Regions from separate parts of the Homo sapiens genome. Here region 1 is linked to region 2. The links come from fine-mapping of genetic effects on gene expression. Tissue or cell type: pancreatic islets. Region 2 holds a variant in brackets; the other region holds the start of a gene. All regions are shown on one strand. Distances are from middle to middle.

Region 1 (8,110 bases), 460 kb after region 2:
TTCTCCTCTTCTAGTTTTTTCTTTATTGAAGTCACTAGAGATGACAAACTTTTTTATTATAAACTTTTTTCCAACAAAAAAGATATTTTAGGTGACTATTAGATTGATAGCTAAATATCCTCATCAAAGTCAAAACATCTGTAACTAAAAAGTGCTGTCTTTTGCAAGCTACACAATTAAGAGCTTAACTATCAATAATGTAATTTTGTACTCCTGGAAGAGTATTCCTGATCTAGGTATCAAAGGTTTACGTAGGAATATATTTACTATATAATATGAGAAATTCAAAGAGCAGAGATAAAAAGCACAGATCTAATGGCCATACCATTTTTAGAAGTTACAATAGCTAGAATATTGCTATTTCTCAATGGATTATAGTATTTTAATTAAAAAGAAAAAAAGAAAGAAAACCGCACAAGATTCATCATAATGCATATAAAGTATTTAGCACAATGCTTGGTACACAATAACTATTCAATAAATATTAGCTCTATAATAAACAAGGGATTAAAATAATAAAAAAAAAACAAACAGGAGAACCCAAAATGAAGGGAAAAACTTAGAGCTAATTTCCTAGAGTATGTATTTAAATGGAAAGTCGGAGCTCACAGAGAGCAGTCAGGAATTCTGCATTTTCTGGATCTATCTTTTGTGCCTTCTCATAGTACTCAGCAGCTTGCCTCTTTTCTCCTTCCAGCTTGTAAACAAACCCTAGGGCACTTAAACTCTGCACATCTAAAGCATTGTGACAAAGTCTCTTGGTAGACAATTTCTTCAGAGCACTTGTCAGTTTGGTGCGAAGGGGTGATCTGTCTTTGACCTTTAAGGCTTCTAAATAATGATGGATGGCAGTATTTTCTGATTTACGGTGAAATTCCTGAAAGCGGCCATAGTGGTAATGGATCTGATGTTTGTGATCATCGGTTATGTTCTCCAGACGAAGAGCTTTCCGGAAAATGTCCTCAGCATTGCTATACTGGCCTCCTTCAGCGTACATGTTGGCCAGGTCTGTGTAGGCAAATGCAAACATAGAGTCTCGTTCCATGGCTGCTTTGAAATGAAATATAGCAGATGAAATCAGCTCATCAACCTTTAGTTTATCCTTTCCTTTAGGTCTGTTGTGTGTGGCCTTCTTGATTTGGATCATTTGTGCCCTGTAGCAAAGTCCCATCTGGTGATGCAGGAAAGAAGAAGTTGGTGTCACCTCCAAGGCCTTTTTTAAAAGTTCGAGAGCTTTGTTCCAGGAATTTTTTCTCCTATAGAACTTGGCTGCATAACGAAGGACGTAAGGCTGGGATGATATTTGGTCCAGGATTTCTTCAATATACTTTTCCCCTTCAGCTTCTGCATGTACATCTTGAAGCTTCAGTGCCAGAAAAACCTTAATATAGCTGTTATCTGGGTTCAGGGTAACAGCCTTTCTCAAAGGCCCCAGAGAAAAGCTCTTTACAGACCCTTCTCTATCAGAATCATCCAGCCGATACACTGTGATAGCATAGCCGATGTTAAATTCTGGATTGTCAGGCTCCACTTCCAGAGCCTTCTCAAAAGCCGCTTTAGCCTTTTGATAATACTTTCCTCCAAATTTCAAGAGTGCCCAGCCTTTCTCACAGTCAGTCTCAGGACACTCCAACTTGTAGTTAGAAGGACTGGACAATTTCTTACAGACATTCCCTATCTTACCTGTATACTTCTGAGCTTCTTCAAGCTGGTCCATGTGATAATACACCCAGGCATAGTTTCCCCAAGTGACCAGGCTTCGTACTTCTTCTTTGTCTGAGTGTTCTTGCTGGATTATTTCTTCTGCTTGTTCCAAGCACTCAAGGGCGTCTTTATTTTGGCCTTTTAGGTGTTTCACATAGGCCAATAGGTTATAAAGAGCAAGTCTAGATTTTGTGGTAAGAAATTCAAGCTGTTGCCCAATTGTATCTTCTACCTCAAACAGATCAATGTCTTCCTTAAGTAAATTCCATGTAAAATGACATTCTAACTCCAACAGAATGGCCTTCAAGGTGTCCTTACGAATTTCACTGTCAAAGATAAAATACTTTTTAATTTTTGAAGAAATACAAGAAATAATTTTCTAAACCTTAAATATTGTTCTTTGCATAACAACTAATTTTATCCCTATTTGATCTTACAGTTAAAACATAAGTTTCCCATAACTTTATACTAGAGTTTCTTCTATATACAGTTATGTCCTAGAAATATTTCATTTAAATTCTCACTATTTATTGCAAAAACAGTTCTGGAGAGATGACAGAGCTTTCTGTATTACATGTATCTATTTCCTTTTGGCAATCACTAAACCATTGAAAATTAGGAATGAATATATACATATTCAATAATTAATATGAAAATTCCATTTTTGTATTATGAGTACTGATCCTGACTAGGAAACCTGGTAAAATTGCTCCTTGGTAATTGTTCCTTTCTCTAGTGTAATTGTACCAAAAATATGGGCAAGACATGCCATGTCCTTACAGCCTGCTTAAATCCACAACAACATGGCTTTACCAGCCCCCTGCCTAAAACAAACACCTGTTTTGAAGGTCTCTACCAGCCCAGCCCAAGGAGGATGAGGAGGGCTGCTCAGGTATTATGGATTTGGTTGTAAGATCTCAAAGGGACATTCAATCAGGTACTGACGTGGTTTGTCCAGGCTCTGGAATTTATGCACAACTGGACACCATGAGAATTTTTATTGTTTAAACTTTGTCTACTTAATTTTGTAACTTTGTCTTTGGGAAGCTAATAAGAGAGAAGCTATTGCATCAGAAGAGGTAACACGTATCTTTCGGTAATTCTGTTCTTCTGCTAGGAAGAAGCAGACTTTCATTGTCCTTGGGAGACAGTCCCCAATGGGGCTGAGCCCTTTTCCTCCCCATCCTGCATATATACGGTGCACGCCACCGTCTTTTTCTGTTTTTTGTTGTTGTTGTTGTTTTGTTGTTGTTGTTGTTGTCAAGCCCCTTCCTGATAGCACTCTCCTTTCTTACAAATGTTAGATGTGGCCAGGCGTTGTGGCTCACGCCTGTAATCCCAGCACTTTGGGAGGCTGAGGCGGGTGGACCACGAGGTCAGGAATTCGAGACCAGCCCGGTCAACATGGTGAAACCCGCGTCTCTACTAAAGATACAAAAAATTAGCCAGGCGTGGTGGCACACGCCTGTAATCCCAGCTACACGGGAAGCTGAGGCAGGGGAATGGCTTGAACCCGGGAGGCGGAGGTTGCAGTGAGCCGAGATGGAGCCATTACACTACAGCCTGGGTGACAGGGCGAGACTCCGTCTCAAAAATAAAGTTAGATGTGTGGGTGGCACTTAAACTTTTTTTTTAAACTTATAATGGGAATAATTAACATTTATTGTGCAAGTATTATGTGCTAAGCAGTCAACTGATAGGATTTATTACTGTCCTTTTCCACAGTCCCAAGAGATGGACACCATTAATTTTTACAAATAAGGAACAGACTCACAGAGTTTGAGAAACTTTGGGATCACTCAACTAGTAGGAGTTCAGTCCGGATTTAGAACAAGGGACTATCTGCTTTTAGAGCCCAAGACCTTAACATCTCATTCCTCAACTCATTAAATGCGGAAGGTTCACTAACCACGTGCAGGGCGGGGTGCTAGCCCCTGGGGATACAAAATGATCAAGAAAAGGACGCCATCATACTAAATCAGTAAAGGAAACAGATAAAGAAATCCTCATAAAACAGCGGATTGGGTGGGACGATAACAATCTGTGCTTGGTACAGAGGTAGCTCCTGGGAAGGGAAGAACTCAGACCCAGAAATCAGAAACGCAAACTGGCAGTGGCAGGCGAACCTGACGCCTGCAGGGCTGCGGCGAAACCGCGTATGCCACACCGAGGGAATGGCAGCTGGAAAGAGAGGCACGCGACAGGCCTAAGGAGACCCGTGGCACGTAGCAGCTGCCCCCGGAACAGCGCCTGGGGGCTCTGCAGGCGCTGACCAGTTTCCCGGAGGCGGCGGCCGCGGACCCAGCACGGTCACCGTCGCCGCTGCCGAGAAGAGCCGTCGGGTCGCGATGGGTGGACAGGCCTTCCGGGGGAGCGTCGCCCGGCACATACCCTGACAGTCCCGACCGCAGACGCCAGGGATGGGACAGGCTCCCGGGGAGCATCTCCTGTTCCTCCTCCCTGACCGGCCTTCTTAGGCGCTGGGGAGGGGCCGGACTCCCGAGAAGCGTCCACTCGGCCACCCTCCCCGGCAGGCCCGACTTCAGACGCCGCGCGCCGGGACAGAGCGCCCGGGGAGGGTCCCCAACGCAGATGCCCGGTTGCTGGGCGCGAGGGGCTCGGCCCCTGAAAAGGCCGCAGAACTGCGCTGGAAATGAATAAAAGCAGCCCGGTTTGAAACCAAGGCCGACGCAGGGCTTGGGAGGAGAGGCAAAGGAAAACCCTTACCTCATGATGGCAGCGCTCTGCAGGCCGTCCGGGCGGCGCAGTCCCTCGGATCGCTCTCTCCTCAGCACCGGGGACCGCGGGAAGCCGCGCGGTGGGCGTGCGCGTGCGCGTGCGCGCGCCAGGCCTCTGCAGCCCCTGGACTCGGCCGCGCGGCGTGTCTTTGTTAAAGGAGAGACCCCAGCCCCAGCAAGAACAGGAAACTGGAGATTGAATCAGATGCCGAGCGCTCAGAAACTGAAACTTAAGAAATCGAAACTAAACGTAAGCTTCAGAAACCGAAACTTAATAGAAGAGCTCAAGAGCCGCGGCCAGACGTTTGCGGAGTCCAGGGTCTTTCGGAGTTGAATTTGCAGCTGGGCTCCTTCACTTTGGTCTCGGCTTTTATCTGCCTCCCTGAGTACGCTGAGTTCGCATGCTGCCCGTGTAACTGTTTGTTTGTTTGTTTGTTTGTTTGAGATAGCGTCTCACTGTGTCACCCAGTCGTGATCTCAAGGGATGCGCCCGCCTCTGCCTCCCAAGGTGCTGGGATTACAGGCGGAAACTTAAGTCCCTGCTTCCACTCCAGTCTTTTGATTCAACAAGCAACACTGCAATGCTATACATCTATGCTGTTATTTCTGTTGGGTGTAAACTGAGAAATTTGGAGCTAAAATCTATATACATTTTAAGTTTTGACGGATATTGCCAAATAGCTTTAAAAATCCACTCTTACCCACAATTGTAGGAGACTGCTTCTCTTCCATACCTTCGCCAATGGTGCTTTGTAATAAGGACCCAATAAAGACAAGAGTGGTATTGGGGATCTAGGCAGAAAATGTCAAACACCCATACCTTAAACATTTTGTCCCCTTTGAATTCATTCAGCAAATATTGACAAACAACTGTAAGAGCCAGACTTTGTTCAAAGTACTGTCAATATAACAATAAAGAAAACAGACACGGGCCTTACCCTTATTGAGTTAATGTCTGTATTCAAAACCTCAATATCCTGTCCATAATTCATCTTTTGCATTGATTTTGGTTTTTTTTTTTTTTTTGAGACAGGGTCTCACTCTGTCACTCAGGTTGGAGTGCAGTGGTGAGATGACAGCTCACTGCAGCCTCAACCTTCATGGCTCAAGCGATCCTCCCACCTCAGCCTCCTGAGTGGCTGGGACTATATGCGTGCACCACTATGTCGGGCTAATTAATTTATTTTTTGTAGAGGCGGGGTTTTGCCATGTTGCCCAGGCTGGTCTCCAACACCTGGGCACAAATATTTTTCTAAACCTTAAATATTGTTCCGCCCATCGTGGCCTCCCAAAATGCTGGGATTACAGGCATGAGCCACTATGCTTGGCCTGATTTTGAATTTTTAAAAACATATTGCATTGAAATATTGTCTACCTTGATCACTGAGCTTCTGGCACCCCACCCCTCAAAACTTAGTGCCTGAAGCGAGTGCCTCATTTAAAGCAATCACTTCTAACAGTTGTACTGTCTTATACAGAAACTGCTGGTCACCTGTGGCTATTAAGAACCTGATTTTTAATTTAATATAAATTTAAAAACTGATAAGTTAATAGAAAACTTACATTTGGAATAACTTAGGTATACGAATCTGCTTTTTATAAGTTGCAAATTTTATGAACTCTAAATACAGAGCAAGTATTTCCAGTGATTATCCTCAGCAAACTAATGCAGGAACAGAAACCAAACACTGCATGTTCTCACTTGTAAGTGGGAGCTAAATGATGAGAACACACGGACACAGTGGGGAACAACACACACTGGGGCTTGTTGGAGTTGGGGGTGGTGGGAGGGAGAGCATCAAGAAGTATAGCTAAGTGATGCTGAGCTTAATACGTAGGTGATGGTGTGTCCGGAATTGGTTCCTTCCAGTAGGTTTTTGGTCTTGGTGACTTCAAGAATGAAGCTGCGGACTCTCGCTGTGAGTGCTACAGTTGTTAAAGATGGCGTGTCTGGAGTTTGTTCCTTTCGATGTTCAGATGTGTCTGGAGTTTCTTCCTTCTGGTGAGTTCGTGGTCTTGCTGACTTCAGGAGTGCAGCTGCAGACCTTCACAGTGAGTGTTACAGATCTTAAAGGTGGCGCGTCCGGAGTTGTTCGTTCCTCCCGGTGGGTTCGTGGTTTCACTGACTTCAGGAGTAAAGCCGTAGACCTTTGTGGTGAGTGTTACAGCTCATAAAGGCAGTGTGGACCCAAAGAGTGAGCAGCAGCAAGATTCGTTGCGAAGAGCGAAAGAACAAAACTTCCACGACGTGGAAGCAGACCCGAGCAGGTTGCCGCTGCTGGCTGGGGTGGCCTGCTTTTATTCCCTTATTTGGCTCCACCCATATCCTGCTGATTGGTCCATTTTACAGAGAGCTGATTGGTCCACTTTACAAAGTGCTGATTGGTCCATTTTACAGAGTGCTGATTGGTCCATTTTACAGAGTGCTGATTGGTCCATTTTGACAGAGTGCTGATTGGTGCGTTTACAAACTTTTAGCTACACACAGAGTGCTGATTGGTGCGTTTACAATCCTTTAGCTAGACAGAAAAGTTCTCTGAGTCCCCACCTGACCCAGAAGCCCAGCCAGCTTCACCTCTCAATCCCCCCTCTAAACAGGACACCCCAATTGCTGATGGGAATTTGGCTGATGACTGCTCTAGCTACTTTCTGCTGGATAGGGGCGAAGAAGGGGCCCTGTAGGTGTAGTGTCCTCCAGAGGGGAACTCTTTAGGCCAGTGGAAGGGCCAGCAGGTCAGTCCAGGGGTCCTCGGTAGAAGTTGTTAGTTGAACTCATTTGGGGTTCCATTTGTAAGACCATCTGTAGCTTGAGGGCCTCAATTCTAGAGGAAACAAATTTGACAAGAAGGTTAAAAACACAGGGCCCAAAGACAAGTAACAGCAAGATGGCTGCCACAGGACCTAGAAAGGGGAGAAGCCATGTTGCCCAACTCCAGAGGTTGGTATAAGAGTTTGAAAGGTGTTGTCTGATTTCAGAAGCCTTTTCCTGTAAACACCGGGTGGCATCTCGTGCTATCCCTGACTGGTTAGTGTAAAAACAACACTCTTCCCCTAAGAAGCTGCACAGTCCTCCTTTCTCAGCAGTGAGGAGGTCTAGGCCTTGGCGATTTTGGAGAGTCGCTGCTGCCAAAGAGTCTGTTTGGGATTGTAGAGTAAGGATAGATTTCATTATTTCATGCAAACTGTCTGAGAAATCCTTTGAGAGTGTATGGTAGTAGGATAATGCATGTTACACTGTTAACTTTTAGCAAACTTTACGTTAGTTGAAAACCTTGTAAGTTTGGGATTTCAATTATTCTTTGCTATTAGTAAGACCTCGTTCAGTCCATATTAACTTAGAATTGGTATAGATGGCTCCTTCCTGATTCTGTAAGTATTTTAAGGTTTGGCTGAGTGCAAACAGCTGACACATTTGAGCAGACCAATTATTAGGCAATTTTCCTAACACTGCTTCTACAAGAGTTTCCTTATTATTTACTGAATACCCATTGTGTTTTTTTTTTCCTTAATTGCCCAGGAGGAACCATCTATCCGTCCTGTCCTGAAGGGAGTTCCTCCTAGATCTGGTCAGACCTTTGTATGGGAATTAATTAAGATTTAGATCCCCTGTTAGGAAACCTGCTGGGTAAGGATTTTTGATAGGAAGGCTACTGGTTGTCAGTGGCCTC
Region 2 (8,110 bases):
AAAACAAAAGACACAGACTGGCTGAATGAATCAAAAAGAAAAAAAAGACCCAATGAACCCAGTGACTTTTTGCCTACAAAAAACAGACTTCACCTGTAAAGACACACATGGACTGAAATTAAGGGGGATGGGAAAAGATAGTCCATGCAAATGGAAAACAAACAAACAAAAAAAAAAAACAAGAGTAATTATACTTATATTATATTAGACTACATAGCTTTCAATAGAAAAACTATAAAAACAGACAAAGAAGGTCATATAGTGAAAAAGCAGTCAATTCAGCAAGAGGACATAACAATTTTAAATATATATGCACCCAACAAAGGAGCACCCAGACATATAAAGGAAATATTATTAGAGCTAAAGAGAGAGAGAGACCTCAGTACAAAAATAACTGTAGACTTCAACACCCCACCTTTGGCGTTGGACAGATCATCCAGAGAGAAAATCGACAAAGAAATATTGGACTCATTATGTACTATAGACCAAATGGACCTAATAGATATTTACAGAACATTTCATCCAATGGCTGCAGAATACACATTCTCCTCAGGACATGGATCATTATCAAGGAGAGACCCTATTTTAGGCCACAAAACAAGTCTTAAAACATTCAAAAATTGAAATCATATCAAGAATCCTCTTTCACCACAGTACAATAAAACTAGAAACCAATAATAAGAGGAATTTTGGAAACTATACAAACACATGGAAATTAAACAATATGCTCCTGAATGACCAGTAATCTAGTGAAGAGATTAAGAAGGAAATTTTAAAATTTCTTGAAACAAGTGATAATGGAAAAACAACATACCAAAACCTATGGAATACAGTGAAGGCAGTAATGAGCTATAAGTGCCTACATCAAAAAGGAAGAAAAATTTTACATAAACAACCTAATGATGCATCTGAAAGAACCAGAAGAGCAAGCCAAATGCAAAGTTAGTGGATGAAAAGAAATAATAAAGATCTGAGTAGAAATAAATAAAGAAAACCATACAAAATATCAACAAAACAAGAAGTTGCTTTTTTGAAAAGAAAAATTGACAGACCTTTGGCTAGCATAGCTAAGAAAAAAGAGAGGACATTGAAATAAATAAAATCAGAGATGAAAAAGGAGACATTACAACCAATACCACAGAAATTCAAAGGATCACCAGAGGCTACTATAAGCAATTATATGACAATAAATTGGAAAACCTTGAAAAAAAATGAATCAATTCCTACACACATGAAACCTACCAAGATTGAACCATAAAGGAATCCAAAACCTGAATAGACCAATAACAAGTAATGAGATCAAAGCTGTAATAAGTAGTCTCCCAGTAAAGAAAAAGAACTAATACCAATTCTACTCAAACTATTCCAAAAAATAGAGGAAGAGTGAATACTTCTAAACTCATTGTATGACACCAGTATTACCTTAATACCAAAACCAGAGTCATATCCGAAAAAGAAAAGTAAAGGCCAATATCCCTATGCAAAAATCCTCAACAAAATGCCAGCAAACCAAATTCAACAACACATTTAAAAGATAACCTATTAGGACCAAGTGGAATTTATCCCAGGGATGCAAGGATGGTTCAACATACACAAAGCCATAAACGTGATACATCACATCACAGAATGAAGGACAAAAACCATATGATCATTCCAACTGACGCTGGAAAAGTATTTAATAAAATTTGTCATCCCGCAAGATAAAAACTCTCAAAACACTGAGTATAGAAGGAACACACCTAAACATAATAAAAGTCACATACAACAGATCCACATCTAGTATTATACAGAATGAGGATAAACTGAAAGCCTTTCCTCTAAGATATGGTATACAAGGTTGCCCACTTTCACCACTGATATTCTACATATTACTGGAAGTCTTAGCTAGAGCAATCAAACAAGAGAAAGAAATAAAGGGCATCAAAATCAGAAAGGAAGAAGTCAAATTAACATTGTTTTTATGATATGATCTTATCTTTGGAAAAACCTAAAAACTCCACACAAAAAAAAACTATTAGAACTGTAATAGTTCTAATAGTCAGTAAAGTCAGTAAAGTTGCAGGATATAAAATCAATATACAAAAACCAGTAGCATTTACATATGCCACAGCAAACAATATGAAAAAGAAATCAAGAAAGTAATCCCATTTATAACAGTTACAAATAAAATTCAATATCCAGTTATTAACCAAAGAAGTGAAAGATCTCCACAATGAAAACTATAAAACACTAATGAAAGAATTTGAAAAGGACACCAAAAAAATGGAAAAATATTACCTGTTCATGGATTGGAAGAATCAATATTGTTAAAACTTTCATACTACCCAAAGCAATCTACAGATTCAATATAATCCCTATCAAAATACTAATGACATTCTTCATAGAAGTAGAAAAAACAATCCTACAATTCATATGGACCACAAAAGACCCAGAATAGCCAAAGCTATCCTAAGCAAAAAGAACAAAACTTGAATCATATTACCTGACTTTAAATTATAGTACTGAACTACAGTAACCAAAATGGCATGGCACTGGCAAAAGAAAAAAAAAAACAGGCATATAGACCAATATAACAGAATACAGAACCCAGAAACATATCTTTACCTCTACAGTGAACTCATTTTTGACAAAGGTGCCAGAACATACACTGGGGAAGGACAATCTCTTCAACAAACTATGCTGAGAAAACTAGATACCCATATGTGGAAGACTGAAACTAGACCCCTATTTCTCACCATATATTAATTTTAAAAAATCAAACAGATAAAAGGCTTAAGTCTAAGACCTCAAACTATGAAACTACTACAAGAAAACGTTGAGGAAAATCTGCAGAACATTGGTTTGAGCAAAAATTTCTTGAGCGATACCACACGAATACAGTCAACCAAAGCAAAAGTGGACAAATGGGATCAACTAGAGTTAAAAAGCTTCTGCACAGCAAAGGAAACAATCAATGCAGTGAAAAGACAAACCACCAAGTGGGAGAAAATATTTCCAAACCCTCCACCTGACAAGGGATTAAGAAACAGAATATATAAGAAGCTCAAACAACTCTATAGAAAAAAAAATCTAATAATCCAATTAAAAAATGGGCAAAAGATCTTAATAGACATTT[C/T]TCAGAAGATGACATACAAATGCCAAACAGGCACATAAAAAGATGTTCAACATCACTGATCATCAGAGTACTGCAAATCAAAACTACAATGAGATATTATCTCACTCCAGTTAAAATGGCTTTTATCCAAAAGACAGGCAATAATAAATGCTTGCAAGAATGTGGAGAAGAGGAAACCCTTGTACACAGGAGTTGGTGGGAATGCAAACTAGTACAACCACAAGAACAGTTTGGTTCTTGTGGTTTTTATCTCAGAAAACTAAAATAGAGATACCATTTGATCCAGTAACATTACTACTAGGTATTTTTTTTTCAAGTTTCAACATGAATTTTATTTTTTTTATTATTATTATACTTTAAATTTTAGGGTACATGTGCACAATGTGCAGGTTAGTTACATATGTATACATGTGCCATGCTGGTGTGCTGCACCCATTAACTTGTCATTTAGCATTAGGTATTTACCCAGAAGAAGGGAAATCAGTATATGGAAGAGATATCTGCATACCCACATTTATTGCAGCACTATTCACAATAAAAAAGTTTGGAAGCAACCTAAATGTTCATCAAAATATAAGCAGATAAAGTAAATGTGGTACATATCCATGATGGAGTACTATTCAGCCATGAAAAAAATGAGATCCTGTCATTTGCAACAACATGGATGAAACTGGAGATCATTATGTTGAGTGAAATAAGCCAGGCATGGAAAGAAACTTCACATGTTCTCACTTACTTGTGGTAGCTAAAGTTTAAAACAATTGAACTCATAGAGATAGAGAGTAGAAGGGTGATTACCAGAGGCTGAGAAGAGTAGTCAGGGAGGGGAGTGGTTAAGTGGGGATAGTTAATGGGTATGCAAAAATAGAAGGACTGAGTAAGACCTAGTGTTTAATAGCACAGCAGGGTGACTATAGTCAATAATAACTTAATCTTGTATTTTAGAATAACTGAAAGTGTATAATTGGATTGTTCATAATGCAAGAGATGAATGCTTGGGATGATAGATGATCCATTTACCTTGATGTGATTGTTTCACATTACATGCCTGTATCAGTATGTTCCATGTACCCCATAGGTATATATACTACTATGTACCCACCAAAATTAAAAATCAAAAACAGAGAAATTAAAACCCAGTCAAAGCAGCTCTGGTCAGAAGGGCTTCCTCCTTAGCATAGGAAGCATAGCAGGCAGGCAGCACACTCCCTAGGATCTAGCAGCTAAGAGCGTGAGATTTGGAGTTCAATTTGAGTTTGTCACCACCATTTATGAGTCTGTGACTTTGTGAAAATTGATTTTCCCTAAGCCTTAGTTTTCTCACCTATTGAAAGGGGATAGTAGGTGTTTTAAAAGCAGCTTAATTCGTGGAGCTCTCATGAAGATTACATGAGCTGGTGACTGGGAGCAGTTACTGTTGCTCTTGCCACAGCTGGACCCTGGGATCACCATGACACCAGTGAATACTGAGTGCACACAATAACAAATACATGGAATGACTGACTGGACTGCTGAGTTTTTTATGTTTTTAATGAAGTCTGACATATGAAAAGGAAAGTGCGTAAGTTCTGAGATTAATTATCAGAGTGAATACACCTATACACACCTATAGCCACCATCTTAGTCAAGAAACAGGACATGGCCAGCACCCGGAAAGTCCCTTTAACCCCTCCCAATTATACTTCCTCCCTCTCTCTAGAAGTTAATGTCCTAAATTCCAACAACATAGATTAGTTTTCCTACTTTTCAACTTTGTGTAAATGGAATCATAGTGTCTATTCTTTCTGTGCCTGGATTCTTTCATTCAACACTATAGTTGAGAGATTTGAGAGATTCTCCATGATGTCCTATGAGGTGGTAGTTTGTTCACTTTGAATAATGTACTGTTACATAAATTTTTCTTTCTACCATGGGTGGATATTTGGGTTGTTTCCACGTTGGAGCTGTCATGAAAAGTATATTGTAATGAACTTTCTTGTATATTTTTTGAAGTGGGGCCTCAATCAGAAGGATTTGGGCCTCCTTTGTACATTTCTTGATGTCCTTATGTACATACACATTAATGTTGAGTGTTCTACCTAGAGGATTGCTGTCCAGCCTTAATGAATAACATTAAAAAGTTTTCCAAAATAATTGAACCAATTTGTATTTACTTGAAACTACTGCCACAATTTTTATTTGTTTAATAATGCACAGAAACTAGTCCCTTAATTCAATAAATACAAAGCTCTCCTAGAATAGGATTTCCCAAAGTGTGGAATACAAGTCCTGCCAGAGACTCTGAAAATTAAAATAGGTTTTTTGGTTCAAATAATTTTGAAAATCATTGCATATTATATCATCTTCTCAGAGAATGTACCTTAACACATTAAAATCTCTGAGAAGCCCTTTATTTAAAAATAATAGGCTAAGTTTGTTTGAATGATAAGTAGTTGCTTTGGCCCACAGAGCCCTTTTGAGGCTGTAACACCTGTAGATAACACAAAGATGCAGCCAGTGAATGGATTCAGACAGCAGGAAAGGGACAGCCATCTTTTGGTGCTGTAAAGCTACAGTGCTTAATAACTGAGATGCCAATTCCCTCTTTGAGGATGGTGGTCTATTATTATTGGCACAATAATAATCTGAAAGGTGGTAATCTCTTTTATCTTTAAAAGTTTTTTGAGGTTTTCTAATATTTGACATGCCTTTTCAGCTGTTGTGGATTAACCCCTAAATCAACAAATAATTACTGGTGGTCTGCTGTGCACCCAGAATTGCACTAGGTTTGTGGAATAGATAAGATATTGCTTGCTTATTGAAAATTACTTATAGTCTAGTTAGTGAATGCATGTGTAGTTAATACAATCACAAGTTTATCTTTTCTCAATTTTTTTTGGTAGGGATGGGGTCTCACTATTTTGCCCAGACTGGCCTCAAGATCTCCTGGCCTCAAGAGATCCTCCCACCTTGGCCCCCCAGAGCTCTGGGATTACAGGAATGAGCCATGTGCCAGGCCAAAAGTTTATATTTTATGAAACAGAAGTTACCCCCAGTACCTGATTAAACTTTTTGTTATTTCTGATCTGATTGGCTAAAAATCAGGTATCTGATTTTAATTTGCATTCCCCTGATTACTAGTGAGACTAAGCCTCTTTTAATGTTTATTGGCCATTCTGATTTCCTCTTCTGTGAATTCACATCACCCACTTTTCTTTGAATTTCTGTTTTATACAGACTTTATACAATCATAAAAAACAATATTAGCAAATTATTACAAGTATATACTATCTCACAAATATAGTAAAGAGATTCTGGATACCAGTTTTTTGTTTTGTTGTAAATATCTTCTCTGAGTCTGTGGCTCATCTTTTAACTATGTTTATGGTGTATTATCCTGTATAGTAGTTATATAGTTAAAGGTGATACAATATATTTCTCCTCTCTTTTGTGAGATTTTTTGTTACTTGTTTATGAAGCCTTTCCCTATAAAGAAGTCATATATAAATATATTCTGCTATTAAAAAAGAAAACGGAGCAATGAAAACAATTTAAAATAAAGCATAGATAGAAAAAAATGAAATAAATAGATCATCAGTTACTGGGACATTATAAAGCAGTGTAACATATATATTAGGAGTACCATAATGGGAAGCATGAAGGGAAAAAAAAATATTATATAATACAATTTCTGAAAACCAGTGACAAAGAGAAAATCTTAAAAGCAGCCAGAGCACAAAGACAGAAGATGTACCGAAACACAAAGACGGACAACAGACCTCATGTGAAAAACTATGGAAGCAAGAAGACTGTAGAGTAACACCTTTAAAGTATTGAAAAGAATGCACTGGTGAGAAGGGCTCACTTCCAGTGAGGTCAGTGACAACTATCCTTTATAAAGTTCACTGTAGGAAACGGTGTCATAGAATCATGTTTCTTAGTGTCAATAGGAATGACAGGACTATAAAATGGTAGGGTCCCAGTGGCAGTACCTAAATGTAAGAGGAAAAGTGAACATTATTACCACTATGAAGAGCAAGGTCAGAGTGGCAGCCAGTACCTTGACCTTCAAGGTCTGTGTTAATGGCCAGTAGGTCATGGTGTTCCCAGGGGCAAGATAGATAGACAGCTTTTTATGGTGTTGTCTGTCAACTGAAAAAAAAAAAATCAGAAACTGGCCAGCAGAAAGTTGGTATCAGCTGTCACTAAAAAATCAAGTTACCACACCCATTTTCCTATTGATAGATCCAGAGCATATTGATTGAAAAAGAAGCTGAACCTCCTTGAAGAACCCTGGAATGCCAACACAAGTAGACACACTAAAAATCCCTCCAATCCTTTCTCAGTGGGTCTGTGACCAGAGTAAATGAATGGTGGTGGGGGCAGGAAGGGAAATGAGACCTTTTCAGGATTTGGGATGCAAGATCTGGGTCACACAAGGGGACCTGAAATACACTGACCTGCTTATTAGAGTAGGCACATATGGAAGCCAGGTGATATATGACTTTCTGACCCAATCCTCCTCACAGAGAGTCTAGACCCATCCTGTGGCTATTTCTCCAATACCTCAGGGTATAGTTGGAACTAGATATACCCAGTGCCTAACAGAAAGTTCACATTGGTTTTTCGTTTTGTAAAATAAGGGCCACCATGCTAGGAAGAGCCAAACAGAAGCTCATGTAATTGCTCTCCCCAGACAAAATACCAAATCAAAATCAATACTATATTGTAGGAGTACCTTCAGAGATTGAAGCCATCATCAAAATTTAAAGGATGCAAAGGTGGTAGTCACATGATAGCTCCACTTAACTTCACTGTAAAGCACATTTAAAAAATGAATCATGTTAAATGACAGTGGAACATTGTGGTACCTGCAATTACAGCTGCCATGAGGAATGAATTATCCTAATTGGCACAAAACAACAAGGATTCTGGAACTTATTATGAAGTTCTTGATGTGGCATATGAGCTTCTGTCAATCCCTGTTGATATGGAATTCAAAATTGCTTTGCTTTT

Evidence for each region. PIP is the estimated chance that this variant, and not a neighbour inherited with it, causes the effect.
Region 1: it holds the start of IFIT5, and the variant in region 2 is fine-mapped to the expression of IFIT5 in pancreatic islets (PISA, PIP 0.94).

The regions. Positions count from the first base shown.
Region 1 is chr10:89,411,125-89,419,234 of GRCh38, reverse strand. IFIT5 (interferon induced protein with tetratricopeptide repeats 5) reads right to left here and starts at 4,667. Exons shown (of 2, transcript NM_012420.3): 1 at 4,432-4,667; 2 at 1-2,030. The coding sequence starts at 4,436. The coding sequence ends at 587. It also overlaps a transcript of LIPA not described here. RefSeq lists enhancers at 3,621-3,690, 3,791-3,890, 4,501-4,810.
Region 2 is chr10:89,874,518-89,882,627 of GRCh38, reverse strand. The region is part of intron 1 of LINC01374 (long intergenic non-protein coding RNA 1374); the gene reads right to left. Among named protein-coding and RNA genes, the nearest start is that of LINC01374, 25 kb to the right of the region's middle. The variant C/T (reference allele first, on the strand shown) is at 3,116.